Linked DNA regions of Homo sapiens: all the other regions are linked to region 1. The links come from fine-mapping of genetic effects on gene expression. A gene starts in region 1. Each other region holds a variant in brackets. All regions are shown on one strand. Distances are from middle to middle. Region 1 holds the start of PHETA2 (PH domain containing endocytic trafficking adaptor 2). Region 2 overlaps SEPTIN3 (septin 3). Region 3 has its middle 25 kb from the start of CYP2D6. Region 4 overlaps ZC3H7B (zinc finger CCCH-type containing 7B).

Region 1 (7,350 bases):
TACAGGAGGGCATTTCGTTGACGTAAAAAAGCTACAAGCCCCTTCCGGGGCAAGGTCCAGCACCATCTGTTAACAGGGCAGCCAGGGAGAAAGGATGGGACCCCAGCACTCTGAGCAGAATAAATCTCTCTTCACTGGCCGAAGACCCTCTGCCTCAAAGGGCCCTACCCAGACTGCTGAGTGAGGATCCCATCCCCAATCTTCCCACCCCTCTCAGGAAGAGCTGGGTCCCAGAAACTCCTATGACACAATAAATCCACTTTCTCTGACAGTGTCAGAGCTTCAAGCCGATACTGCAGCCTACCTCGGATTTAAGTGCACAGGAGACTCCCCAGGTTGGAAATTATGGCTCTAGAGCCCGGTGTGTAGGCCAAAGGTATGGCAAGCCTGTGACAGTCTCGGGTGACATTCCCCACTTCCTTCATTTCATTAACATCCCCTGGGAGGGGGCAGTCAGGCCAGTGCAGTCAGGAGATTGGGGTCTTGCTCTGTGGCTGCTAAGTCTCCTTCCTTCTCTGGACCTCAGGAAATAAAGAGGATGGAAGGAATGGTCCCGCAGTCCCTTCCAGACACACGGGTGGATCTCGAACCTGGAGAATGCCTAAATAGCAGGAAGGAGAGAACCCATGTCCCCTCCCAAAACGCAACCTTGGAAATGGGTAAACATTTAACTCCTGAAAAAGAACTGGCCCTGGTTTCCTGACTCAAAGGGCCCAGACTTAGGGCCTATCCTGTTCCTCACATTTTGAGTGGCTCCCCTGGGCCCTCTTCTGCCAACACTGCCGCAGCTCCACGATCTCCTGGCCATACCAGTCATGCAGGGTAGAGAAGCAGGAGGTCTCAGGGGACACAGGGCTCTGCCCCTTGCCTAGGAGGAGGCTGGCAGGGCCCTGCAGCTCCCACTCAGCCAACCCCCACCCTGCAGACCTGCTGCCCGCTTCTTCAACCAAGCCCACAGGGCTGCTGTCCTTGGAGAGGCAGTGGCCATTCTCCAGGCCCGCAGCTCGGTGGTTAGGAGCCTGGGGCTTACAGCGGCTGGCAACAGACTTCCAGGATGAGCGGCGTTGCAAAGCCAGGCTCTGGCGTGCGTCCTGCAACTGGCTCTCCAACTCGCGTACCACCAGGCGCATGTAGCCAAAGCTTGCCCGGGACAGCACCTTCACCCAGGCCTCCTGGGCCGCCGGCCCTTCTGCGGCCAGCAGGTGTGGGCGCACTCCAGGGGCATCAAAGCAGATGGCAAAGGCAAACTCCTCGGGCACGGGAGCCTCGGCCAGTTCCACTGTGCAGCCTTCCAGCACCACCAGGCTCAGTGGGGCCCGGCCCTCGCGACTCTCAAAGGAGAATAGCAGGTTGCCCTTGAGGACAAACCAGCATCTTCGGCCAGTGCCACTGGGGGTCGGTGGGGTCCCTGGGCCCCCCCAGGTGCGCAGGAAGCCCATGTGGTCCGCTGGGGAGTCGCTGAGTGCATAGTGGGCTACACTCCTCTCGTTCAGCTTCATGGCTCCCACGGGAACTGTGAGGCAAGAGAGATGGCAGCAGATCAGAGAGGGAGGTGGTTCCGTGCCCTCCTGGGGAACAGCACCGGCTCCAGAGGCAACCTGGACCCCAGCCCTGGGACTCCTACTCGCTTGCTGTGTCCCTAAGGTCCCTAAAGTCTCCTGAGAAGTGGGCTCGTCTTTCCTTCCTTTTCTCTCAAAGGGATGTCGTGAGGATCATGCAAAAAAAACTGGACACTGGCGGACTTCGAGAAAAGAATAACGAGATTGCATCAGACAGGAGGCATGGCAGGACCTGGGCACGGCTTTCTAAAATCCAAAGAAACAGGCCCCAGCTGAGCTGAAATGGACCCCAGACCCATCGAAACCACTGTGCTTAAACTATCCCCTCATCTGGGGTCCTCTCAACTCCAACTCTGAGGCCAAGCTTCCAGGGTTTCCATGACCCTCCTGGGCCTCTACTGGCCTCTTATTTGCATATAGCTGTTGAATCTTATTGACCTACAGGCAGAAGCTGAGGCACAAATATAACTTTAAAGAGTTTACTTGAGCGAGAGTAAGGATAACTGCCCAGAACAAACTTCTAAGTTGCCGTGGGGTGTGCTGCGTTGGGCCTTTCCTACAGGTTTTTATAGGCAGAAGGGGGCAAGGATGACAAAGTTGTTTGGCAGGAATTCTCCTTGGTTTATAGAAATAACATTGATTGGTGGGGTGCGGTGGCTCACATCTGTAATCCCAGCACTTTGGGAGGCCGAGGTGGGTGGATCACCTGAGCTCAGGAGTTGGAGACCAGCCTGGCCAACATGGTGAAACCCCGTCTCTAAATACAAAAATTAGCCAGGCACGGTGGTGGGTGCCTGTAATCCCAGCTACTCGGGAGGCTGAGGCAGGAGAATTGCTTGATCCCAGGAGGCAGAGGTTGCAGTGAGCCAAGATTGTGCCATTGCACTCCACCTGGGTGACAAGAGAGAAACTCCATCTCAAAAAAAAAAAAAGAAATAACATTGATTAGTGATTGGCTATACATTGTTGAACTATAGGGTATGAACTATAGGGTGTCCAGTGTACAGCATTTTATGGCTACTTGGTGTCACTCTAGAGCCACATAGCAAGTGGCTTCAAGAGGTAATTCTTGATCCTTTTGTAGTTCATGAGCGTGATGATTGGGTGTTCACATGCATGTGTGAGCTGTGCCACCCTCGAACCTTGTTACCATGTAGGCACATTACCGATCTGACATGAAGAAAAGAAAAGAAAAAAAAAGAAAAAGAGATAATTCTTTAGCTCAAGGGAGGAGTAAGACTTGACAGCTGTTGCGTTTCAGTATGTCTGGGCCTGATTATTTAAAGGGGCTCCAATTCCTCAGATAAAACATTATTTTTCTGTCTCAATCTGCAGCCTTCAGGGCCAGATGGGGAGCTACTCTGTACACAAGAGTGTGGCACAAACCCAGGGTACAGCTGAGAAGAGCTAACCACAGCCATTGAATGTGGGTGCCCCCAGCATCATGAACGGCACTTAGTCCAGCTGTCCTTACTCATGGAAAACCAAGGCCCAGCGCAGTGAGGGGAACTTGCCCAAGGTTACATGGCCAATGAGACGCAGAGCTTCGTCTCCCAAATCCCTCACACTGTACCCACTTACCAGCAGGGCTCACTGGGGGAGGGCAGGGACCTCTTGTCTGGCCACACAGCTCAGCCCTTCGACCACCTGGTTCCCAGGGAACCTGCAAAACAATTCTCAAGCCCAGTCAGCTTATCCCAAAGAATGAGAACTCCTACTCCACCTTCGAGGCCTAATGAAACCACAGCCTCCACCGGGAAGCCTTCCCTGACCCCTGAGAATCCCCCCACCCATCCACCCAGCCAGGAACCCCTGAGCAGCTTAAGGGGATGGGTCCCCTTGTCTTGACCTTTACTCTTCAGACCCCAGCTCCCTGCCTGAGTCCAGGTCAGAGCTACACATGCCCTCATGGTTCCTAGCTTTTCCCTTCTAGCACTTCCTGGCTTTAACTGAAGTCACCTAATCTGGGAGGCCTTCCATGATCACCATATCATCTAAGGTGGCCCTGACCACCAAGGTGGCCTGACCTAAGGTCACCTGACCAGTAGACCCCCCCATTTCTGGTTTGTTTCCTTCATCCCACGACGATGTCATATGTGTTTACAGCACTGTTCCCAGCCCCAGAATGTCTAGGGTGGGGCTCAGCTAAGTTCCCAGGAGAACCCCAATACCCAGCACCGTGCAGGGCTCAGAGAGGCCCTCAGGAGGGATCTGTTGAATTAATGGGGATACATCAGTGGACAAATCGAAGTCTCCCGCCCTCCTGGAGCCTACATTCCCACAGGGGGAAACACACTGTAGGCAAACAAAATAAATACTAATAAATTAATGAAAGAATAATTAGTGAAATAAGAGATAACATAAGGACCGGTAATGCTAAGGGTTATGGAGAAAAACAAGCCAGGCCCCTGGATGGGGAGAGACGCCATTCCAGTAGGGGGGGCCCAGGAAGGGGGAAGAGATCACAGATGTTTGCCAGAGGAGTGGCCTCACTGGGGGTCCTGGGCCCAGCACTGGGGCACAGGGAGGGGGTGGGCAGCCCGTGGGGCCATGACCCCTCCCCTCCCCCGCGTCTGGGGAAGGGCGCTCCCTCCTCTCCACCAGTAGGGGGGCCAGGCCACCGCACACCGGGCCTCCCGCCCGCCCCACCGTCTTCCTGGATTCTTTTGTTGGAGGAGAGGCGGGCTGGGGGTGCGGGACCGCCGGGCCAGTGGCCACTGCGGGGAGCCCCAACCCGGTTGTCGCCCTAAACAGAGGTCACCTCGGTCAGGGTCTCCCTGGCTGCCGCCTTGGTTTCCCCGTCCTCGCGTCGGGGCTGTTCGCCGCCACTTCCCCGCGGCCACACCTTCCCTGGGGCCACCTCCTCCCGGAGCCCGCCGGGCCCACTCTCACCTCCCGCCGCCGATCGCACCGAAGCCCAAGAGGGCGATCCCAGCTCGAGATCCCGCGCCTCCGCCTGGGCTGCAACGTGGCCGCGGGAGCCGGGAGACCCCGCCCGGGAGGCTGGAGTTAACGCCCCTCCCCGCCCAGTATTCGCCAGGCCCGGGATCTCCGAGGCCGCCTCGAGGTCTGCCAGGGCGGGAAACTGAGGCCCGAGAGGGCGGTGAACTGCCCGAGCCACAGCACTGGTCGGTGCGGGCGGCCTCGAACCCAGAGGCCCCCCTCGGACGGTCCGCGGGCCTCGGACCCAGCCCACCGTCCGGAAAACTCTGTCCATCTCTTCCTCTCTGGTCCCCCTCTCCCTGCTCGGCCCACTTTCCCGGCAGAGCCAAACCAGGGATGTCTCTGGGTACCTCCCTAGGGTGGGCTCCTACACAGCCCGCGAGGGCCAGCCAAGCTTTGTTGGCCACCCACCGGGCCACCGGGGTCGGCTGATTTCTGCCTCTGGAAATTACCCATTTCTGCTTCCCTGGCCTGAAACCCACCGGCAGCCCCCAGGCTCTGCACTAGTGGGTGGAGGAGGAGGCCTGCGGTGAAGGTCGCAGGAATGCACAACCAAACCCAAGAGACTGGAACTTCTGGAAGGCCCTGGAAGCCGGAGGTGTCCTCAAACATCTGCCCATGAACCTGGCTCCCGCCTCAGAGCCTTTGCCCTTGCAGTTCCTGCAGCCTAGAATGGCCTTCCTTCCCACCCCCAACCGCAGCTCCACTCCTCAGGACGCCTCTGGACACAGATTTGAGTCTCTGCTCAGTGGTCTCCTCTGGGACCATTGTAAAGCAACCTGCCCTGCAGTCTCTGTCCCATCCCTGGGGTGTTATTTCCATCAGAGCACTCACTGCTAGAGTAAACTTTCCTATGCTCATGCTTTTATTTTCTTGTTTATTGCCTGTCTCCCCTACTAAATTTTATTCAGTTAATACTGTACACCATAATAAATGTGTTAGAAGATAATAAGTGGCATGGAAAAACAGAGGAGGGTAAGGGAGATGGGAAATTGTGGGAGTAGGGAGGTTGCAATTGCAAATAGAGTGGTCAGGGTAGGCCTCACTGAGAAAGTAACATTGGACAAATACTTGAAGGAAATGAGGGAGCCAGCCATGCCAATTCCAGGCAGAGGGAACAGTCAGCGCAGTGGCCCTCAGGCCTGTTGTGCTTGAGGACCTGCAAGAAGGCCAGTGAGGCTGGGAGGCCTGGGGAGGGGCAGACAGTAGGAGGTGGGGGTAGAAGGGGTGGGATGGGGCTCTGTAAATCTGGGAGGGCTGTTACTCTAGACAGGGCTGTGAGGAGGGACCTGAGCGATTTCAAGGCATACTCTGGCTTCTGTGGTGAGAATCAATGTCAGTGGAGGCTGGAGACCAGTGAGGAGCCTGCTGCCACTATCCAGGCGAGATGTCACAAACGCGGCAAGAGCGGGGAGGGAGAGGCAGCCAGAATTAGAATGGCTGTTGAAGGTAGAGAACACAGGATTTGCTGAGGAGTTGGATGTGGGGAGTGAGGGAAAGAGCAGGCAGGACTGCACAGTTTTGGCTTGAGCACCTAGGAGAGTTGTCATTATCTGAGATGTGGAAAGTGGCCGGTGCTTGGTCTGGGTTATGTTTGAGACACCCAGTGGCCATCTGAGTGAAGGTGCTGTTGGGGCTCAGAAAGCGATGCCTAAAAATATGGCACTTGGGCATGCTGAGTACTTTGAACCAAAGGACACTGGAAGAGCCTCAGAAGCAAAGTATCTCTCTGACCTTCTCCTGCCCCCCTTCTTTCTCCTGTTTTTCTCCTGCAAGGCAGGCCATAGAAACTAAAAATCCTCCTCCCTAAGGTGAGTTATAGCAACTACAAATATTGGCTGGGCACAGTGGCTCATGCCTGTAATCCCAGCACTTTGGGAGGCTGAGGTGGGCGGATCACGAGGTCAAGAGATCAAGACCATCCTGGCCAACATGGTGAAACCCCATCTCTACTAAAAATACAAAAATTAGCTGGGCATGGTGGCGTGCGCCTGTAGTCCCAACTACTTGGGAGGCTGAGGCAGGAGAATCGCTTGAACCTGGGCGGCGGAGGTTGCAGTGAGCAGAGATCGCGCCACTGCACTCCAGCCTGGTGACAGAGGGAGACTCTGTCTCAAAAGAAAAAAAAAAAGAAAAAAAAGTAACTACAAATATTACTGGAAACATCCCCCACCTTTCTGTGTCGGGCCTGGCCATAAAGGAATTCTCTGATCTACCTTGCCTGATACTAGGTCATAAGACTCTCATTCCAGAAGGGGTCCTGCCCTCCTCCCAGCAGGAGGGAATGCCACACAGAGAGAACAAGAAGAATCCGAATCTGAACAGACATTGCTGGGTTTCCACACTCAGCTATTAACATTAAATCATTCCCTTTTGTCTAATCGCGTTTATACACAGTTGTCCATTCCTTATTCCTTTTTTTTTTTTTCTGTTGCCCGGGCTGGAGTACAGTGACACAATCACAGCTCACTGCAACCTCGACCTCCTGGACTCAAGCAATCCTCCCACCTCAGCCTCCCGAGTAGCTGGGACCACAGGCACCTGCCTGGCTTTTTAATTTTTTGTAGAGACAGGGTCTCACTATGTTGCCCAGACTGTCCTTAAATGTCTGGCCTCAAGCGATCCCCCTGCCTCAGCCTTCCAAAGTGCTGGGATTACAGGCATGAGCCACCAGACCCGGCCAGGGCTGTCCATTCTTCATCAAACCGAGACATAAAAATAAAGATTTCCCTGAGTATTTGTGTCTTCATTCCTGAAGGCTCTCAAGTCACATAAAACATTGAGTAAATCAATCTATTATGCTTTTCTCTTGCTAACCTATATTTTATTTGTAGGAGTGTCCGCTGTG
Region 2 (7,350 bases), 84 kb after region 1:
ACAGGCCTGTGGGACAGAGTTGAGAGGAAGAAGGTGGTTGGTGGTGGTATTTGGGATGTGTGTGTGTGAAGTGGGTATGTGTGATGACACAGAGAAGTGGTCGTCATGGGTTACTGTCGTGGCTTTCCTCTGTGTCCACGCTCACCGGAGGGAGGCCTCCATTGTCATTGAGCCGCTTGGCCCTGTAAGTCTCATAGTGGATGTTGTGTGTCACTTCCTTGAGGTCCTGGAGGTGGGTCCTAGAGGACACAGGGTGAGAAGAAGAGGGCTGCAATTAGGGGCAGGAAGAGGAGGCGGTGACACACATCACTTCGAGGGACTGGACCCAGTGAATGGGAACCACTCCCAGGAGCTAAGGATTCTTCTACAGCACCTTCCATTTTGCAACAGGAGCTGGAACTGGGGCAGAAAGCTCTGTCAGAGAGACCTGGAGATGCAGGAGGTGAATCTGAACAGATAGACCCTGACCCCAAATAATTCAACCTGCTGTCTGGACAGCTGGAGGGGAGACATCTTACCTGATGACAAAGTCTCGAAGCAGGGCAAACTCACAGTGGTTGAGGTTTTCCACTATGAACAAAACAAAACAAAGCAAAACAGGTAGTCAGTTCATTAATACAGCAACACCCAGGAGGTGAGCTTCTGTTTGGGTCACGGAGGCATTTAGGAGAAAGCTATGGGACAGGTCATTTTTTGTAACCCTTCCAGAGATTTGCTCACTTGGGTGTACTGGATTTGATTCATTGAACAAATATTAAGCAGCTACAATGGGCACGACATCCTTCTAGACGCTGTGGCATAATAGCCAAGAGGGACTATAATTTTTACCATTTTATAGAAGAGAAAACTAATACCAAGTCTGAGAAACTGGCCAAGGCCTAAGATACACTTCCCATTCTTCAGAAGCTTATAATCCGGTTGGAAGTAACACAGAGAAAATAATAATTGAGCCATTTTAAAAAGGTCATGCACTACATGACAAATCCAATTCAACATATATTGAATACCTAGTATTTGCAAATCATTGGCCAAGCACTGTTGGAACAGAATGAGGATTAAGACATGGGGCCAGGCGCTGTGGCTCATGCCTGTAATCCCAGCACTTTGGGAGGCCAAGGTAGGAGGATTACTGGAGCCCAGGAGTTTGAGATCAGCCTGGGTAACACAGTGAGACCCCCACCTCTATTAAAAATAAAAATAAAATCACCAGGCATGGTGGTTCACATCTGTAATCCCAGCACTTTGGGAGGCCAAGGCAAATGGATCACCTGAGGTCAGGAGTTCAAGACCAGCCTGACCAACATGACAAAACTCCATCTCTACGAAAAATACAAAAATTAGCTGGGCTAATTTTTGGGGATAAATAAAAAATACAAAAATCGGGGTCCGCACCTGTAGTCCCAGATACTTGGGAGACTAAGGCAGAAGAATTACTTGAACCTGGGAGGCAGAGGTTGCAGTGAGCTGAGATTGCGCCACTGCACTCCAGCCTGGATGACAGAGTGAGACTCCGTCTCAAAAAAAAAAAAAATCTGAGTCTGAAATCAAGTTTCACCACTAACAAGTTATGTGCTTTGGACAAGGCTTTTAACCTGAGCTTCCGGTGCTTTGGTAGCTTATACTCTGAGAACAGGAGCACCCGCTCTCCTCCCTTCATAGGGTTATCATATTGAATGAAATCATTAAAGTGATTCTTTGACCACTTTCAGAATCATCAAGACCCGCCCAGGGTCACATCCATTCATAATAAAATGGAAATGGCAACACCTGAACAACCCTCCGGCAGTTTGTCAGATCACATCCCCCTTCCTATGAAAACCTTTCTCCAGTTTTTCCAGGCCTTACTAATCTCTCCATGTTCTGAACTCCTTTGATGCGCTAAGTCAGTGCCACCCAGTCAGGTGCTAAATCAGTCTCTTGTTACTCCTGCCTGTGAGCATCGTCTTCTCAATGAGACTGTAAGCTCCTTATGGGCAGAATCTGGCTGGCATTCATTTCATATGTCCTGAGACAGTGCCTTGACCTATAGATGCTTAATAAATGGTGACTGGATAACTGATCAGCAACCAGTTCTTCCAGAAGATGCAGTGAATTACCTTCGATGATCCCCCATGGAGTTTTTCGGCCGAGGACCCTCTTGCCATTCACTTGGTACTCCTTGTCACTTCCCACCACAGCAAAAGGCATGCTCTCCTGCTGCACGGGGCAGAAACACAAACCAGACACATGTGCACCGTCATCCTCCAACAACCTGGACTTTCAGGAGCAGGATGGCATATGGTCCTCTAGCCTTGAACCACACACTTCTGATGCTCATTCAGAGATACTACTGATGGCAAGGGCAAGGCTCAGTCTCTTGAAAAGAGCACCCGACTGAGATTGAAGAGTCCTGGGTCTAGTCCCAATTGTACCACTGCCTCACTGGTTAACCTCAGGAATCAGCTCTCCTTCAGCTGCAGAGCGCTTTGTACTTTCTTTTTTGAGACAGAGTTCGCTCTTGTTGCCCAGGCTGGAGTGCAATGGCACAATTTCAACTCACTGCAACCTCCACCTCCTGGCTTCAAGCAATTCTCCTGCCTCAGCCTCCCGAGTAGCTGGGATTACAGGCATGCGCCACCATGCCTGGCTAATTTTTGCAGGTTTTGTAGAGATAAGTTTTTGCCATGTTGCCCAGGCTGGTCGTGAACTCCTGGGCTCAAGCGATTCTCCCACCTAGGCCTCCCAAAGTGCTGGGATACAGGCATGAGTCACCACGCCCAGCCAATTTAATTTTTTTAAGTTATTCTAGCGGGGGAAGCCTATAAGCCACTCAGTCTAACCCCTGCATTTCATAGAGGGGAAACTAAGGCAGGGTCTGACCACAGCATAGATCCTCCTGGACCCCAGCCTGATGCTCTTCCTGCCTGCTGCCCCTCCCATCACCCCAAATACTGTTTTTGCCAGACCTTGTTGGGGAAAAGGAGGCTTTTATGTGGTCTGGGGATAGAAGGCTTTCTGGGTACAGGGAGCCCTTCTGTGGGTTCACAGTCCAGGGCCATAGTCCTCCCCATCCCCCTATGTCACTTCTGGTCTGGGTCAGGCAAGGTTGGGGGGAGTACAGAAAGGGAAAAGACAGACAGAGGACGTGCACAATACACATCCCAGAGGTCGCAAGGGGGCATCAGTGGAGGAGCAGTGCCCCAGGCACCCACCCTGATTTTGTCATTCTC[C/T]GTCTTATCCTCCAAATCCTCATCAAATTCCTTCTGGGGGTAGAATTCAATGCCATTTACTTCAAGCTCCTTGCGAACCTAGAGGCGAGGAGAAGAAACAAGGTAGTCAAGTGTCAGGGTAATGGAAAAGAGGGGTGTGTGCACCTGTGTGCGTGAGCTGAGGTCAGAGAGCCAAATCCAGCCTTGGATAATCCACAGTCATCTCTGAACTCTGAGACCCTGAGCAGCAGGAAGATGGTGAATAAATGCAAGCCCCAGCTATACAATTACAACCTAGCCTGAGAGGAGGAAGAGGCCAGGAGGTGCAACTTCAGGTCCCAGGCGCCTCGCAACCAGCTTGCTCATCTCAGGGTCCGCGAGACTGGGATTTACACAAGCAGCACAGGTGAGCCCACTGGGGAGTGCTCAGACCCCTGCATGTTATATTCCTGATTGGAAGGAAGAAAGGTGAGGCTCCCCCTACTCCGAGACTGTTTGCCCTCTTTCAAGGTCGACTTAAGTCTTGCCTTCTCCAGGAAACCATCCAGGACCTCTTCATTTTCTATTTGATTATAAGTTTTGTTTGTTTGTTGTTTGTTTGTTTGTTTGAGACCGAGTCTTGCTCTGTTGCCCAGGCTGGAGTACCGTGGTGCGATCTTGGCTCACTACAACCTCCACCTCCCGGGTTCCAGTGATTCTCCTGCCTCAGCCTCCCTAGTAGCTGGGCTTACAGGCATATGCCACCACGCCCAGCTAATTTTTGTATTTTTAGTAGAAATGGGGTTTCACCATGTTGGCCAGGCTGGTCTCGAACTCCTGACCTTAGGTGATCCACCCGCCTTGGCCTCCCAAAGTGCTGGGATTACAGGCGTGAGCCACCGCCCCCAGCCAATTGTAAGTTTCTTTTTTTTTTTTTTTTTTTTTTTGAGATAGAGTGTCACTTTGTCGCCCAGGCTGGAGTACAGTAGCACGATCTCAGCTCACTGCAAGCGCCGCCTCTCGGGTTCATGCCATTCTCCTGCCTCAGCCTCCTGAGTAGCTGGGACTACAGGCACCCGCCACCACACCCGGCTAATTTTTTTGTATTTTTAGTAGAGACGGGGTTTCACCGTGTTAGCCAGGATGGTCTTGATCTCCTGACTTCGTGATTCACCCGCCTCTGCCTCCCAAAGTGCTGGGATTACAGGCATGAGCCACCACGCCCAACTGGATTGTAAATTTCTTAAAGGCAGCAATTGTCTTTTCATTTCTCTCAAATCGCCCCTCCCCAACCCTGTACATCCAGCACAGGGCTGAGCTTATAGAACATGCCAGTGAGGGCTGGGCACGGTGGCTCACGCCTGTAATCCCAGCACTTTGGGAGGCCGAGGCGGGCAGATCACGAGGTCAGGAGATCAAGACTAGCCGAGACCATCCTGGCTAACACAGTGAAACCCCATCTCTACTAAAAAGAGAAAAACAAAATTAGCCAGGCGTGGTGGTGGGTGCCTGTAGTCCTAGCTACTCAGGAGGCTGAGGCAGGAGAATGGCGTGAACCCGTAAGGCGGAGCTTGCAGTGAGCCGAGATCACGCCACTGCACTCCAGCCTGGGCGACAGAGAGAGACTCCAAAAAAAAAACAAAGAGAAGATGCCAGTGAGGACTAGTGGCCAGTTGACTCACTAATTAGTCTAGCCCTTCAATTAGGCTAACGTTGGAGGAGTGATTTCTTATGTACACAGTGATACATGTATTCAGTGGTCTTCACAGGTAGGTTTGGAGGGTGGGAAGAAGGCAGCCCAGAGCTGTGCCATCTTTTCTTCATCATAGTCCCCAGATACCACCAACCTCAGCCTCTTGAATGGTTAAGAAGGGGGCTGGGGTGGAGAATTGGGGGAGGGTTGAGGGTGGGGGTGAAGGCAGAATGATGAGGGCTAGGAGATGGCCTGAACCCAGCGGAGAGAAAGGAGGGGATGGGAACAGGAAAAGAAGACAGGGGGCCTTCTCACCCTTTGCTTGAATTCAGACTTCTCCTCCAGGGTCATGGTGTCAGCCTTAGCAATGACAGGGATGATGTTCACAACCTTGCTGAGGTGTTTCATGAACTCAAGATCCAGAGGTCGCAAGCTGGGGCACAGAAAAGGCAGAATCATCAGAGCCACCTTGCCCTCCCCAACTCAGCCACCACCACCACTCCAGGACACCCACAGGAGAAGAGGACTGGGCTGGGCATCTGGCTGAGGCCAAGAGGCTGCTACCTCTCGTCTCCGACACAGCCCCACTGCCTTGCCGTCTGTAGAGCAGCCTCAACACCTGCCTTTTTCTTTTTCAGTCCCCTTGCAGATTCTGCCTCTCTTTAAGCCCCCCTCAAACCACCACTTCAGGACATCTTTTCTGACTCAGGGATTTCTTTCTCCTGGGAGCATCTGTGGACTACTGTCTCTACTCATATGTCCTTGTGCGTGTGTGTCTTTTTTCCTTTTTTGTCTGTCTCAAAAACAAAAAACAAACAACAACAACCAAAAAAAAACAACACTGTGTGTGTCTTTTTTTTTTTTTTTTTTTTTGAGACAGGGTCTCACTTTGTCACCCAGGCTGGAGTGCAGTGATATGGTCATTGGCTCACTGCAGCCTTGACCTCCAGGGCTCAAGCAATCCTCCCACCTCAGCCTCCAGAGGAGCTGGGACCACAGTTGCGCACTACCATGTCTGGCTAATTTTTAAATTTTGTGTAGAGACAATGTCTTGCCATGTTGCCCACGCTGGTCTTGAACTCCTGGACTCAAGCAATCTTCCTGCCTCGGCTTCCCAAAGTGCTGGGATTATAGGCGAGAGCCACCGTGCCTAGTGTGTACATCTTGTTCTGCCTATCAGACTACTTCTTGACAGGTCTCCTCCTAGCCCCCAGAGTTAGTCCTGCAGGGCCAAACTGGAGGCCTTGCCCTTCCCACAATCTGACAGTCTATGCCCCCATCCTACCTCAGGCTCTGAGACCCCAACTTGGCTCTATTTTGCAATCTCAGGGACTCACTAAGTCAGTCTGTCTGATGGTTCATTCTGACCAGGGGGTCGAAGCCTAGGGAGGGATAAAACCAGCCTTCTGTTGAGTTCCTGGGTCTAGCCCAGGGGTCTTGTTTCATCTCTCTTCTCCCCCTACCATCACTGCCTGGTTCCTAGAAAATTTGGGGCTTACCTTGCTTGTGCCATCCTCTGAAGAGCTTAACTCTGGCCCAGCAGCTGGGCTTAGTAATGTTATGGGACCCCCCTCCCCCGGTCTCTGCAGGAAGGTTTCTGGCCTGCCCCCTAGGATCTCCATCCTCTGCCTGTTCCCAGCACTTCCTTCATGGGGCCCACCTGTCACTCACAATCAGAGTTCCCAACATGCTTGTGTGTGTCTTATTCTGCCTATCAGATAGTACTTCATGACAATGGTTGGCCTTCATCTCTGAACACACAATGCCTCACTCCAGGCTGGTACCTTCTAAATGCCTACAACTGGGTCCCTACCCTCCAAACACCAGCCCCAATCCAGGAGCCCTGCACTGCCCTATTTCACCCTTCTTGCTGCTCCCTCCGACTCCAATTATTTTCCAAAGCAGGTATTTGGTGAATAAATGAAGTGCCCTCTGCTCACATTCACCAAGTCCTCTTTGCTGATACAGTTGTGCCATGCTGCTGGGACACCAGTGGGCAGATATTGGTGGCTGATGTTGGACAGCTTTAACCTCCTAGCAAGAAAGTCAAACTTCCTCGTGGAAAGTCTAGGGAATCCCAAGGTCATGGGCCATGACTATGTACCAACCCATCTGGCTGGAAGGGCTAGGACTCAGCTAGGGAGGCCTAGCTGAGTCAACGTATGGATCATCCAATCCAGATGGGCACAGATGATACAAACCAGACCAGGCCTGACAATAGGGGTAGGGTTGGTACATACGAGTGTCCTGTGGGAGAGATGAAGTAAAGGCAGCAGTGGACACGAGTGTCAGGGATGCGTTTCTTCCTGGCGATGTTGACCTCCTCCTTCAGGAACTTCTCGTACTGCTCATTGATGTACTTCTCAATGGGCTCCCAGCTGATGGGGAGGGAAAGTAGATAGATGCATCAGAAGAACAAGACCTAGGGCTCAGCTTAGGCATGATCTGGTAGCAATCTCCTTACATTCATGTCATTCCCTGGTTGGTGGG
Region 3 (7,350 bases), 81 kb before region 1:
AATTTGGGGCAGCAGAAATGGCAGATTAATTGTATTTTAATGGCTACATCAAGCAGTCCATTTCTCATTTCACTCCGCCAGGATGGAGGTGTGGGTGGGTGCGCCGTGCCGGCCGTAGGACCAAGCTTAGGCAACTGAACAGGACCTGCACAGAAATGATGGCTTTTTTGAGCTAGTTGTTGTCTCATTCTGGTCTTGACTTGGCATTAATACAGTTAAAATGAAATGGATAGACTTCAGGTGTCAAGGGCTAAACCACAAAACTTGAAAAATATGTATCTTGAGGAAAATATTTTCCTGACAGCAAATGTTTGTCATTTTGTCTTTTATTCTTTTGTCCCCTTTTGATTTGCCTGAGTGGAGCACTTGTGATTGTTCTAGGTCTTTCCTTAAATTGGCTTCAGTAATGACCTTCACTGGGGAGTGGCAGTGATACACGCATGCCTCCTGACTCCAGTTTCTGGCTTCTGCAGTTCTCCTCAACTGCTCAAGTGCCTTTTAGTTCCTTTAGTGTTTGTCTTAATTGATTTTTTTAAAGTAGTTTTATGTTCACAGAAGGATTAAGCTGACGGTACAGACAGTTCCCATATAACCCCTTCCCCCCGTATGCATACCTTTCCCTCTATCAACATCCCAACCAGAGTTGGCATACTGTTTTCACCCAAAGTCCATAGTTTATACTAGGGGCCACTCCCGGTGGTGTACATTTTATGGCCTTTGACAAATGTATAAAGACCTGGATCTGGCAGGGCGTGGTGGCTCTCGCCTATAATCCCAGCATTTTGGGAGGCTCAGGTGGGTGTATCGCTTGAGTTCGAGAACAGCCTGGGCAACATGGCGAAACCCCATCTCTACATAAAAATACAAAAATTAGCCAGGCATGATGGTGCATGCCTGTAGTCTCAGCTACTTGGGAGGCTGAGATGGGAGGATCACTTGAGCCCAGGAGGTCGAGGCTACAGTGAGTCGTGATCGCGCCACCACACTTCAGCCTGGGTGACAGCAAAATCCTGTCTCAAAAAGACGAGGACGCACCATGATCCAGAGTAGTTTCACTGCTCCAGGGATCCTCCGTGTCCCACTGTTCATTCCTCCTTAGCCCCAGTCCCTCACCGCTGAGCCTTTTACTGTCTGCAAAGTTTTGCCTTTTCCAAAGTATCATATAGTTGAGATTAGATAGTAGGTAGCCTTTTTTAGATTGGCTTCATTCACTTAGTAATGTGCATTTAAGGTTCACCCGTGTCTTTTCATGACTTGATAGCTTGTTTCTTTTTAGTGATAAATAATTCCATTGTCTGGCTGTACCACAGTTTATCCATTCAACTGCTGAAGAACATCTTGGTTGCTTTCAAGTTTTGACAATTACAAATGAAGCTGCTGTAAACATCCCTTTGCAGGTTTTTGTGTGGACATAAGGCCTCAACTCCTTTGGGTAAGTACAGGAAGCACGATTGGTGGATTGTATGGTAAGAGTATGTCTAGTTTTGTAAGAAATTGCCAAACTGTCTGGATCACCTGAGGTCAGGAGTTTGAGACCAGCCTGGCCAACATGGTGAAACCCTGTCTCTACTAAAAATACAAAAATCAGCCAGGCATGGTGGCTCACGCCTGCAGTCCCAGCTAAACGGGAGGCTGAGGTGGGAGGATTGCTTGAACGCAGGAGGCAAAGGTTCCAGTGAGCTGAGATCATCGTGCCACTGCACTCCTAGCCTGGGTGACAGAGTGAGTGAGACTCTGTCTCAAAAAAAAAAAAAAAAAAAAAAAAACTGAGAAAAGGAAAAGAAATTGCCAAACTTTCTTCCAAAGTGTCTGTACCATTTTGTACTCCCACCAGCAATGAATGAGTTCCTGATGCTCCACATCCTTGCCAGCATTTGGTGTTGTCAGTGTTCTGGATTTAAGCCATTCTAATAGGTGTGTATATAGCCATTTATTTTTTTAATACTCATAAAGTTTTTAAATTGTGGTTAAAAAAATGTACCATCATAACAGTCACAGTACAGTTTAGTGGGAAATGTGTTCAGATTGTTGTGCAACCAATCTCCAGAATTTTTCATTTTATACAACGGAAGCTTTACCCATTAAACTGCCCCCCTGCAGGCTGGCCCTGCCCCTGGAGCTTTCCATTTCTGTTTCTAGGGTACAAGCAGCCCTCGATACCCACAGGCTCCGCATCCACAAATTCAACCACACATCAAAGATAACTTGAGAAAGTATAACAACTAAAAATACAAATAAGAGCAGTACAGTATAGCAACTATTTATGTAGCATTTACACTGTATTAGGCATTACAAATAATCTAGAGATGATTTAAAGTATACAGGAGCATTTGCATAGGTATACTATGCCATTTTACATAAGGAACCTGAGCATCCTTGGGTTTTGGTATTTACCGGGGGTCCTGGCACCAATCCCCTCCAGGATACCCAGACACAACTATTCCACTGCCCATAACCCCGTCCCCTTGCAGCTGTGGAAACGCAGAGGTGCTGCTCTGAGGGCAGACAGACCCCACCACTCAGCACTCTTGAGTCGGACCCAGCAGAAACCCATCCCATGGGAGGAGCTGGGAATTGGAGGGTCTCTCCCAGTAGCATTGCTATGCCTGGCAGGGGGAAGGGCAAGAACAAGCAAAATGCTCCAACTTGACTACCCTTCCCAGTGCAGTCCCTCCCTGGCTCTGCACTAGCTGGCATTGCAGCATCCTAACTAGTTTCTAGAATTCTCACGATGTTTTGGTCTCCTATAGCTTTAACATTGAGCTCTCTAGGAGAACGAGAGCCCGCAGTTTCCTAGTCTACCACTTGCTGACATATTTTCACACCATCTCACTTGGCAACGTCCATAGGGCCTGCCAGGGCACAGTGCACTTTTTACCATGACACAGCAGTACCACTGTTCAGGGAAGGCAGGTTGGATCTGTTTCCTAAAAATAATAAATCCCAGAAACATCTATACTGACCATTAATAGAATGTAATGTCCAAACAGTATAGAATAGTAGCTCAGCATACACATTGGATGTGGACTCCTAACACCGCTGTGTGACTTGAACCTTGTTATGTGATCTCTGAGCCTCAGTCTCTGTGCCTTGGGGACCATAAAACCACCTCCTTAGGGGGCTGTGGGAGGATTAATGAGCTAGAGCACACAGTCTGACCAGCAGTTTCTGGCACATAAGTGCCCGATCAATGGAAGCCACAGGTGCACAATGATTGGAAAAGGCCACAGGCATTGTTATTAAATGTTTTCCTCATGCTGCCATATCTTGAATTACAGGCCTCTGGCTGGTAAGGAGG[G/A]CACTCGGGAGGACACTGCCCACATTGCAGGCATGCCTGTCCCTGCCCTTCACACCCCCATCATGATTCATGATGACTGCTTGGGGAGGGCCTGACACCTCAAAAGGCCAAGAGTGCATACAGGTAATGTATAAAGGGCCACCATGTAACAAGCACCCAGACCATCCTGCTGTCCCTGCACCTTGATTCTCTCACAGTCCCAAATAGAACAGTGCTGCCATGTAGGACAGGAACATTCATTCAGCTGAGGCCAGTTTGGGAGACCACAAGCCAGATCTGAGAAGTCCCCAGATAGGCATGGGTCTTGCTCTCTCTGTCAGTTGAGTAGCTTCAAAACTTCTGTTGGGCCAGGTGGCTCATGCCTCTATTTCCAACACTTTGGGAGGCCAAGGCAGGAGGATCACTTGAAGCCAGGAGTTCCAGACCAGCGTGGGCAACATAGTGAGGACCCATCTCAACAAAAAAATTAGCCGAGCGTAATGATGTGCACCTGTAGTTCCAGCTACTCAGGACGCTAAAATAGGATCTCTTGATTGAGCACAGGAGTTTGAGTGAGCTATGATCACAGCTCTGCACTCCAGCCTGGGCAACAGAGCAAGATCTTGTCTCTAAAAAATATATATATATTTTTAAATTTTAAATAAACTGTTCTCCCTGCCTTTTGTTCCCCAGATCCAGTCTTCATCCAGACCTGAAAAGACCCAGGCTCCAGCTGCTGGCCTCCTGCTGCCCCTCAGGCCACCTGCACAGGAAATTCCAGGGGTGGGTTGGTCCCACTGCCAGTGCCGTGGCCTACAGTGCTAGGCAGCCCCTCAGTCAGCTAGACAAAGTTCTCCATGAATCCTTCCCAGAAAGTCCTGTTCCAGCCTGGGACAACGTCCCCATGGACCCTCATGGCACTGCTGGCTTGTCATGTCAGCTATGTTACCTTCCTACTCCCCGTGGTCATCATTACGTTGGGGCATTGACTCACAGCCTTACCACCATGCTCCCAGTACACAGCCCAGCACCCAGTACAATCCATACCTCCAACTTGGGTGGAGCTCCCATGCCAGGCCACCTCTCGCCCACCACCCTAATCTGGGTAGGCAACTAGAGCGAGCAGGGGCAAGGACCTCTGCAGCAGCCCATACCCGCCCTGGCCTGACCCTGCACCCACTGGCAGCACAGTCAACACAGCAGGTTGGCTCACAGCAGAAGGCAAAGGCCATCATCAGCTCCCTTTATAAGGGAACGGTCATGCACTGGGTGTGCTGAGAGTGTCCTGCCTGGTCCTCTGTGCCTGGTGGGGTGGAGGTGCCAGGTGTGTCCAGAGGAGCCCAATGGGCAGTGAGGCAGCCATGGGGCTGGATGCACTGGTGCCCCTGGCAGTGACAGTGGCCATCTTCCTGCTCCTGGTGGACCTGATGCAGCAGCACCAACGCTGGACTGCACGCTACCCGCCAGGCCCCCTGCCACTGCCCGGGCTGGGCAACTTGCTGCATGTGGACTTCCAGAACATATACACCTTCAACCAGGTGAGGGAGGAGGTCCTGAGGATCCCCCACCACCAGCAAACATGGGTGGTGGGTGGAGCCACAGTCTGGACAAGAAGCCAGGCTGAGAAGGGGAAGCAGATTTGAGGGACTTCCTGGGGGAGGGCATTTATGCATGGCATGAAAGATGGGATTTTCCAAAGGCCAAGGAAGAGTAGGGCAAGGGCCTGGAGGTGGAGCTGGACTTGGCAGTGGGCGTGCAAGCCCATTGGGCAGCATATGTTAGGAGCACAAAGTCCCCTCTGCTGACACCAGAAGGAAAGGCCTTGGGAATGGAAGACGAGTCAGGGTCCTGTGTGCCGTTTAAATCAGGAAATCAGGCTGTGCGTGGTGGCTCACGCCTATAATCCCAGCACTTAAGGAAGCCAAGGTGGGCGGATCACCTGAGGTCAGGGGTTCCAGATGAGTCTGGCCAACATGGCAAAAACCGGTCTCTACTAAACATACAAAAAATGAGCTGGGCACAGTGGTGCACGCCTGCAATCCCAGCTACTTGGGAGGCTGAGGCAGGAGAATTGCTTGAACTTAGGAGGCAGAGGTTGTAGTGAGTGGAGATTGTGCCATTGCCTTGCAACCTCGGTGACACAGCCAGACAATGTCTAAATAAACGAATAAGAAATCAGGCCGGGCGCGGTGGCTCACGCCTGTAATCCCGGCCCTTTGGGAGGCTAAGGCGGGCGGATCATGAGGTTAGGAGATCGAGACCATCCTGGCTAACACAATGAAACCCGTCTCTACTAAAGATACAAACCAATTAGCCAGGCGAGGTGGTGGGCACCTGTAGTCCCAGCTACTTGGGAGGCTGAGGCAGGAGAATGGCATGAACCCATGAGGCAGAGCTTGAAGTGAGCTGAGAACACACCATTACACTCCAGTCTGGGCGACAGAGCGAGACTCTGTCTCAAAAAAAAAAAAAAAAAAAAAAAAAAAAAAAATCAACGGCTGGGCGCGGTGGCTCACACCTGTAATCCCAGCATCTTGGGAGACCAAGGTGGGGGGATCACAAGGTCAGGAGTTCGAGACCAGCCTGGCCAACATGGTGAAACCCTGCCTCTACTAAAAATACAAAAATTAGCGGGGCACGGTGGTGGGCACCTGTAATCCCAGCTACATGGGAGGCTGAGGCAGGTGAATTGCTTGAACCCGGGAGGTGGAGGTTGCAGTGAGCCAAGATCGCGCCATTGCGCTCCAGCCTGGGTGACAGAGCCAGACATGGTCTAAATAAATGAGTAAGTTAGAAATCAAGGATGAAGGGATATAGTGGACCCGGTTCAAACCTTTTGCACTGTGGGTCCTCGGGCCTCACTGCTCACCGGCATGGACCATCATCTGGGAATGGGATGCTAACTGGGGCCTCTCGGCAATTTTGGTGACTCTTGCAAGGTCATACCTGGGTGACGCATCCAAACTGAGTTCCTCCATCACAGAAGGTGTGACCCCATCCCCGCCCCAGGATCGGGAGGCTGGGTCTCCTCCTTCCACCTGCTCACTCCTGGTAGCCCCGAGGGTCGTCTAAGGTTCAAATAGGACTAGGACCTGCAGTCTGGGGGGACCCTGGCCTGATGGAGGCCCTGACCCAACGGAGGCCCTGACCCTCCCTCTACAGCTGCGGCACCGCTTTGGGGACGTGTTCAGCCTGCAGCTGGCCTGGATGCCGGTGGTCGTGCTCAATGGGCTGGCGGCCGTGCGTGAGGCTCTGGTGACCTGCGGCGAGGACACCGCCGACCGCCCGCCTGCGCCCATCTACCAGGTCCTGGGCATCGGGCCGCGCTCCCAAGGCAAGCGGCGGTGGGGGACAGAGACTGCGTTTCCGTGGGTCCTGGGTGGGCGGTGACCGTAGCCCAAGCTGGGCTGAGAGGGCGCGGGGTTGTGGGCCAGTGAGTGGGTTGGGGACAGCGAGCCAGGAAACCACTTCCATTGGGGAGGTGCGAGTCTGTGGGCGGGAGGAAGAGGGGCTTGTGAGTGGGCGGGGCAACTGCCGAGACCCACCAGGAACCGGGTGGGCGGAGCTGGCGCCTTTCCCAGCTGGAAGCGGGTGTCTAGAAGCCGGGATGGACTCTGCTGTGGGCTCAGTATGGGCGGGGCGGGACGGGCGGGATCTTCCCTGAGTGGAAAGGCAGTCAGGGTCGGAAGAGCCAAGGTGGGGCCAAGACCCAAGCAAGGTGAGTGAGCAAAGAGCAGGCCCTGTGCCCAGCTGGACAGGGCCAGGGACTGCGGGAGACCAGGAAAAGCACAGGGTTGGAGTGGGCGGCGGAGGGCGGGGCCAAGGCCTCCATGACCACGCCCATGTGTCCGTCCCGCCCCCAGGGGTGTTTCTGGCACACTACGGACACGCGTGGCGCGAGCAGAGGCGCTTCTCCGTGTCCACCTTGCGCAACTTGGGCCTGGGCAAGAAGTCCCTGGAGCGGTGGGTGACCGAGGAGGCCGCCTGCCTCTGTGCCGCCTTCGCCGACCAAGCCAGTGGGTGATGGGCAGAGGGGCACAAAGCGGGAACTGGGAAGGTGGAGGACTGGGAAG
Region 4 (7,350 bases), 720 kb after region 1:
CGCGTAGTCCGTGGGCATCTGGATCTGCTTCTCCCCTTCCCGAGAACTGATGGGGGTCCCTTCTCCAGGCTTTCCTGGGTTGTGTTTTTTCAGCCACATGTCATAGGTCTGCTGCATGTCCAGGACTGGGCAGGGGACAGGGACAGGGCACCTGCTGAGGGGCTTCTCCATCCATTCTGCCCCATGGTCCCCACTTGATTTGGGAGCCGTGGGCGTCCCAAGTCCTGCTGATAGGCCGCTCAGCCTCAGGGCCTGGCCTCAGAGAGGGCCCGGCATGGGGCAGGTGGAGAAGGGCCCAGGTAGCAAAGGGGTGCAGTGGACGCTCTTGGGCCCGCTGGTGAATTGAGACATTCAGCACTGAAGAGACACCGGGGGAGGGCCCGCCCGCCCCGTCTGCCCACTCACTCTTGTTCTCCTTCATGAAGGTCCACATGTCCCTCTCCTCCGGGCTGTGTGCGAAGGAGCAGTTCCCCACATATTGGCACTTGCGGCCGTTCTGTGCATGGATGCAGAGCTGTGGGGTGGGCGTGGGGAGATCCTCTGAGTCCCGCTGGAAAGCATCGCTGCCTCCTGGGGGACCCCCAGCCCCCCATCCCAGCGCTCACATCGTATTGCTGTGGGAAGTTACGAATGGATGGCAGTGGCCTCACTGACACCCATTTCCTCTTGGCCTTGGACATCACCAGAAGGACCCGCCGCTCCTTGGTCCAGCTGCAGGACAGAGCAGGGTTGGGGAGAGGTCAGGGCACAGCCTGTGTGCTGTGTGACCTCTGTGGAGAGCCCTGGCCTCTCTCAGTTGGCCTCCACACCTGTGGTGGTAGGGTGGCCCCATCCCACCTGAGCCCCCACCTGGCATCCCACTCACCAGTGCCGGGCCTTGGCACTACAGTACTTGAGGTCCTTGTCAGGCTCCACCACCTGCCCGTTTCTCCAGCACTGGCCACATACAAACTTCATCTGCAGGTCAAAGGTGCTGGGCCCATGTGTCCTCGGAGCACCCTGTGGGGGGATGGGGAGGGGGGTTGGTGAAGCTGCAGGCACCAGGCCTGAGGCCCTGGAGTCTCCACACAGGTGTCCTCTGGGAGAGCCTTGGAATAAGCTGGTCTGCTCCCAGGTCTTCCTGGCAGGCAGTGACCTCCCAACTGCAGGCCCAAGGGCTTCCCAGGAGAGCCAGGCCTGGAACGGGGCTCCTCTTTCCACCCTCTGTGGCTGGTCCCTGCCTCGCCCAACTCCCTGGGAGGCCTGCTTTGTGGATGCTGCATTTCCCATGGCAAAGCTCCGTTCCGCCACACCTCCCTGCGTTTGTACAGGCTGTTCCCGCTGCCCTTCCTCCACTCTTCATCCAGCCTGTTCTAGAAACTATCCTTCAAAACTCAGCTCAAGCGCATCTCCTGTGGGAAGCCTGCCCCGGAGCTCTCCTAAGCTGCAGCTGTCCATTCAGTGAGCTCCCACAGTCTCTAAACTGCTCCTGTTGACCGACTCACCCGTCTATGAGTGCCGAACCTGTAGAGCGGGGGGTCCAGGAGATGGGAAGCCACCCCGGCAGGGGTAGGGTGGTGGTGGCAGGAGTCAGCCTTGGGCGGTGGGACAGGCGTCTGAGTGGCCCTGGTCTCTGGCCCTCCCTCCAGGGCAAGGCCTTGCTGGTCTCTAAGGCCCCACCCACCACGTTCCTTCTCTGTCCTACGCCCCAGCCTTTGGCCTGCTCTTCTGTACCCCGGGACAGGGTTGGGGGCCAGAGGTAGGAAAAATGCTCACTCTGCCTTGTCTCCTGCCACCTTGAACCCCCTCAGCTGGCTACATTGGCCAGCCTGCTGTTCTGTGAATGCACCAGCTGTCCCCTCTCCCTCATATAACCTCAAGCCTCCCCGTCTTCCCAGGAGCCTCGAGTGCAGGGTCACCCCTTGCTCTTCCAGGCTGCTGGGCATGATCCTCCTGCCATAGGAACTCCCCCACAGAAGCTGTGGCCTACTCCCCACCGTGTCCCCAGCATTGCCCTGCCCAGGGCCTGCCCTGGAGCAGGAAGGAGCTGTCCTCATTGCTGACTGACCCCTGGCCTGGTGCTGGACAACTCGTGGGCTGCTCAGCCCCAGAATAACACACGTGTGACCCTGATGATAAGGTGAGGTCATGCCTTTACGCGTGGGACGGCCTGCACTGGAGCAGGCAACAAGTGGACCCATGTGGCTACTGACTTCTGGGTGTTCCCCTCCATTCTCACAAGAAGCGTGAGAGGAAGGCATTATTACCATTTCTTGGGCGAGATAAAGGGGGCACCGAGGGTATGGTGGCTTAGCCACTGCACTAATGACAGCCACTGCAGTCCTGAGCTCCTCCCTTAGAGCCAGACCCCATGCCCACGTTGATGACTGCATAGTCTCACCAGCTCCTTGCCATAGCAGGTGGCAAGAGGGGTCTCACTATGTTGCCCAGGCTGATCTCAAACTCCTGGCCTCAAGGGATCCTTCTGCCACAGCCTCCTGAGTAGCTGGGCTACAGGTGAGCTACCACACCCAGCTAGTGTTCTCTCTTTCAAAGGTCCCATAAGCCCCTCACTCCTTCCCTGCCAGGCTCCTGGCCAGAAGGAAAAAGAAACAGATGGGGAGGGGAAAAGAGGACTGCACAGGAGACTGATGGAGGGCAGCAGGGACCAGGAAGAGGGGAGAAAAAGAGAAGAGGACCAGGAACAAAGAAGTCAGGGAGCAAGGGAATGCTCGAGGTGGTGGGCAGCCCTGCCAGCCAGCCTGGCCCAGGGACCCCCCGGCAGCCTGCCCTGCTCCCTGCCACACCCTGGTCAGCCTCTTGAAGGGTCCAGGGGCCCAGCCTTCCCCCAAGTTAATCAGCAGGTGGCCTCATGTGGATGAAAGGGTCAGTGCTCATGCCTGGATGGCACAGAGGCCTCATCTCACACTTACTGTCTCCTGGGCGCTGTGCCCACCCCTCTGAGCCCGAGGGTCCTCCACTGTCATCTACAGTTACAGTGATCCCACCACCTGGGGACGATGTGAGCACAGGGCAGCTTAGGTTGGCTCCTGTGAGCCTCACACCCACCCCAGGAGATACGAGGGCCAGGGTTCTGATCCCCGCCTGGGGGTGATGGACAGGAATGCCGCAGGTGGGGAGGGAGAAGAGCGAGCCCCGGACAGGACGTCAGAGAACCTGGGAATTGCCCCACTCAGTGTGCCCCTGGGCAAGTCACTAACAATCTCTCAGCCTCAGCTTCCCCATCTGCAAATGCCACAATCCCATGCTCTCTTCAGGACCATGGCGAAGATCAGGAGGGATGGGAGGGGATACCACAATCAGTGGTGTCAGTCCGAGCAGTACTGGGATATTTACAAGGTCTCAACGTATTTCTCCTGAAGACCTTTTTTTCTTCTTTTTTTTTTTTGAGATGGAGTCTCACTCTGTCACCCAGGCTGGAGGTCAATGGCACAATCTCAACTCACTGCAACCTCTGCCTCCTGGGTTCAAGTAATTCTCCTGCCTCAGCTTCTCAAGTAGCTGGAATTGCAGGTGCCCGCCACCATGCCCGGCTAATTTTTTTGTATTTTTAGTAGAGACGGGGTTT[C/T]GTCATGTTTGCCAGGCTGGTCTCAAACTCCTGACCTCAGGTGATCCGCTCACCTCAGCCTCCCAAAGTGCTGGGATTACAGGCGTCAGCCACCACGCCAGGCCTCCTGAAGACTTTTTATTTATTTATTTATTTTTTGAGACGGAGTCTCACACTGTCGCCCTAGCTGGAGTGCAACAGCGTGATCTCAGCTCACTGCAACCTCCACCTCCCGGGTTCACACGATTCTCCTGCCTCAGCCTCCCGAGTAGCTGGGACTACAGGCGCCCGCCACCACGCCCAGCTAATTTTTTGTATTTTTAGTACAGATGGGGTTTCACTATGTTGGACACGCTGGTCTCGAACTCCTGACCTCGTGACCCGCCCGCCTCAGTCTCCCAAAGGCTGGTGGGATTACAGGGGTGAGCCACTGCGCCGGGCCTCTGAAGACCTTTATTAATTACAAACTATAGAAATGATCCCTGAAAGTATAGTCTTAATTACAAAGAGGAAAGCTCTAATTTTACAATAGAGAAATGTTTACAATGGAGGCACCTTGAATCAAGTTATGAAAGTTTAATTAGATTGTCACCAGTGAAGGGACACACTGAGATGACGCATCCCCTGATGTGTGAGCTGAGAACACGACATCACCTCTGTGGAATGAGGAAACTCACACGAGCCCAGAGGGATGGACCTTTTACAAAACATCTGGCTCTTCAAAAACCTCAATGCAACACAAGGCAAAGACTAAAGAACCGTTTCTTCATCAAGGGAGATGAAAAAGAGACACGACAAGGCTCATGCCTGTAATCGCTGCACTTTGGGAGGCCAAGGTGGGAGGATTGCTTGAGCCCAGGAGTTTCAGATAAGCCTGGGCAAGATGGCAAGCCCCACATCCCCAGACCCACGGTCTTAAAAAATAGACAAATCAGCCAGGTGTGGTGGTGCATGCCTGTAATCCCAGCTACTCAGGAGGCTGAGGCAGGAGGATCACCTGAGACCAGGAGGTGGAAGCTGCAGTGGGCCATGATCATACCACTGCACTCCAGGCTGGGTGACAGAGCAAGACCCTGTCTCAAAATAAAATAAAATAAAATAAAATAAAATGAGACACAACAGCTGAATGTGTACATTATCCAAGTTACTTTCATAACTTATTCGAGGTGCCTCCATTGTAAACATTTCTCTATTGTAAAATTAGAGCCTTCCTGTTTGTAATTTGGGGACAATTCACAAAATCTGAATAATGGCATAGTATCAGAAGGCCTTACCATGCTGCTGCTGGCCTTCCCCGCATGCGCCTCCATCTGCTGCCAGTACTTCTTAGACTCCTGAACGATGTCTTCGTGGGTCATGCCTGGGGAGGGTGGGGGCAGACACAGGCATCTTTCAAGGTGCTCAGCAAGGAGGGAGGCAGGGGGTCCACGAGGTGCCAGGGACCCCCGAGGCCCAGCTGGAGGAGCCCTATTCTCAGCCCAGCCACAGTAAGACATGGGGTACAAGGGAACCACTTTGTCCATCTGCAAAATGGGAACAAAGACCTGCTCCGAGCCTCACTGGAAGTGAAAGAATTAAATGCAGCCAAGAGTGGGAAAATGCAGTAGAAAGATATTGGCTCTGTACTGTGGTAGGGAGTCCTCTGCTCCCATGCCAGTGACCCTGTCTCTTGGGCCGGTGACTCAGCACCCTTCCCTGACCCCCATCTCCCTCAACAGGGCTGCAAGCCTAGTGCCTGCTTGGCAGCCCCTGGCCTCACTGGCACTTAGGGCTCCATGCCTGCCCAGCCTGGCTCACCGGTTCACTGTGGTACCACGGCTCTTTACTGCCAGTCCCCAAAGGGCAAATACCCCAGCCTGGTGGCATGGACTCTCCAGTCTGTCTCCCCGCCAGCCTCAGACTGTTGCCACTGAGCCCGACCTTGGAGATCCAGCTCACAACTCTTCCATGAAGCCTGCCCTCTTTTCAGCGCTCTCCATCTTTCTCACGTCTTTCCCACAACAGATGTGGCCTTCCACCTTGACCTATGGCCCCTGCTCCACGACAGCTAATCATCATCGGTGCTTACTTGGGGCAAGACACTGCACTTGACATCCAGTTTCTTGCTGATGATCTGCAAGTATGTATCTACAGGCCAGACCTTTCCTGTGAACCTCCAGATCCCCACATCTGCTGCTTCCAACATCTCCATGTGAAGTCCACCAGGCAGCTCAGACTTCCCACGTCCCACACTGAGCCTGAGCTGCTCCTCTTACAGCCTGCCCCCTCTTAGAACATGGTAGCCCCATTCTTCCTGTTGCTCTGATCTTAGAGTCCACCTTGACGCTCTCCTTTGTCTCATACTTCATATCTGATCCATCAACACATCTTGTTGGCTCCACCCTCAAAATACACCTAGAATCTAACCACTTCTCCCACCTCCAGCATCACCACCCTGGCCCGAGCCACCCTCCCTGATCTCCCGGCTTCTGCCCTTGCTCCTCGATCTCCACCCAGCAGCCAGAGTGACTTTTGCAAAGTACTGATCAGATCATATAACTCCACCCACTTAAAACCCTCCTCCAGACACTGTAAATCATATTTAGAACAACCCCAGTTGTTCCTGTTTAAGGCCTAGAGACTCTTACATGCTCAGTCCCCTCCAACCTCTCAGGCCTCATTCCCCTTCTACTGACTAAGCTGCTCTACCCCCAGGGACCATCCTTTCTGTGCAGAGCTTGCTCCTGCCTCAGAGACTTCAGTCTGGTCCCTCTTCTGGAATGCACTCCCCGCCCTTCCCTGGTCAAAAGTCACTTCCTCAGAGAGGCCTTCCCAGCCATCTTACCTAAAATGCTCCCATCCCCGAGTCTGTCTCTGTCCCATTGCTCGGCTTTATCTTCCTCATAACACTGAGGCACGCCTGAAATGCTACCACTGCATTTCACCAACTCTAAGCAGACACTGAATGTTATATGTACCATATTTTAAATCCCCGCCCCACAAAATGCTGCTAATTAAATGATGACAGGCAGTAGGGGTAAATGTGCATCCTAGAATGGATGGAATACAGGATTTATTCACCTGTTGATATATTATCTGTCTGGCCCCCACTTATAAATGTAGGTTCTCTGAAAGTAAGGGCCTCGACTAGACCATGGCTGAATGCCCTGACAAGAGAAGGTGCTCAGTAAATCCCTGGTGGGTGAGTGGAGAACACCTTCCAATCCCCGCAGCAGCTCTGTGAGGAAGAGATGGGGCTCCCCATTTCCCAGATGAGCACTGGAGGCTCAGTGAGGAGCGGGGACTTGCTGCCGACCACCCAGGGAGCAAGCAGAGGTCCTGCTGCAGGAGCCCAGGTGCTCCTCTCCCCTCTCCGTGCTCCCTGGACGGTGCCTACGAAGGGAAAAACCCAGATCTCCGAGCCTGGAAGCGCCCTGAGAGCAGAGCTTCTCTCCTCTGTGGTGCCTGGGACACACAGAGAGCCCACCCCGCAGCCACCTCTCCTGAACTCTCCCGAAGCCCCCTCCAGCGACCATGGGGCCCTGGCCTGTCACCCCAGTCAGTCCTGCGCTCCCTTCACCTGCGCCGCCTACCCCTCACCTGAGTCACCTGCCCTCCACCTGCACCGCCTGCCCCTCACCTGAGTACTGCTGCAGCAGCCAGACCTTGAGCTCGATGAAGCTGTGGGCGAAGTGGCAGCTGTCCTCCCGCAGGCAGCCGTAGCGCACCTCATGGCGGCACACGTCGAACTGGAAGTGCTCCTGGAACTGGCGGATCTTGGAGTACTTGAGGGAGGTGGAGCGGACGATGTGCACCAGGCACCT

Evidence for each region. PIP is the estimated chance that this variant, and not a neighbour inherited with it, causes the effect. A credible set is the group of variants that fine-mapping cannot tell apart.
Region 2: its variant is the best candidate, but not a certain one, in a credible set for the expression of PHETA2 in whole blood (TOPMed, PIP 0.68).
Region 3: its variant is the best candidate, but not a certain one, in a credible set for the expression of PHETA2 in whole blood (INTERVAL, PIP 0.81).
Region 4: its variant is the best candidate, but not a certain one, in a credible set for the expression of PHETA2 in subcutaneous fat (GTEx, PIP 0.51).

The regions. Positions count from the first base shown.
Region 1 is chr22:42,071,443-42,078,792 of GRCh38, reverse strand. PHETA2 (PH domain containing endocytic trafficking adaptor 2) reads right to left here and starts at 4,545. Exons shown (of 3, transcript NM_001002034.3): 1 at 4,452-4,545; 2 at 3,141-3,222; 3 at 1-1,513. The coding sequence starts at 1,499. The coding sequence ends at 720. It also overlaps the pseudogene SNORD13P1. RefSeq lists enhancers at 589-1,151, 3,762-4,492, 4,493-5,225 and silencers at 3,494-3,788, 4,028-4,407.
Region 2 is chr22:41,987,510-41,994,859 of GRCh38, reverse strand. It overlaps SEPTIN3 (septin 3), which reads right to left. Exons shown (of 12, transcript NM_001363845.2): 6 at 7,101-7,238; 7 at 5,176-5,293; 8 at 3,192-3,287; 9 at 2,097-2,196; 10 at 519-570; 11 at 146-239. Among named protein-coding and RNA genes, the nearest start is that of WBP2NL, 7.6 kb to the left of the region's middle. The variant C/T (reference allele first, on the strand shown) is at 3,210.
Region 3 is chr22:42,152,290-42,159,639 of GRCh38, reverse strand. It overlaps the pseudogene CYP2D8P. Among named protein-coding and RNA genes, the nearest start is that of CYP2D6, 25 kb to the right of the region's middle. The variant G/A (reference allele first, on the strand shown) is at 3,299.
Region 4 is chr22:41,349,118-41,356,467 of GRCh38, reverse strand. It overlaps ZC3H7B (zinc finger CCCH-type containing 7B), which reads right to left. Exons shown (of 23, transcript NM_017590.6): 16 at 7,167-7,348; 17 at 4,822-4,907; 18 at 866-999; 19 at 606-711; 20 at 406-514; 21 at 1-125. Among named protein-coding and RNA genes, the nearest start is that of TEF, 29 kb to the left of the region's middle. The variant C/T (reference allele first, on the strand shown) is at 3,569.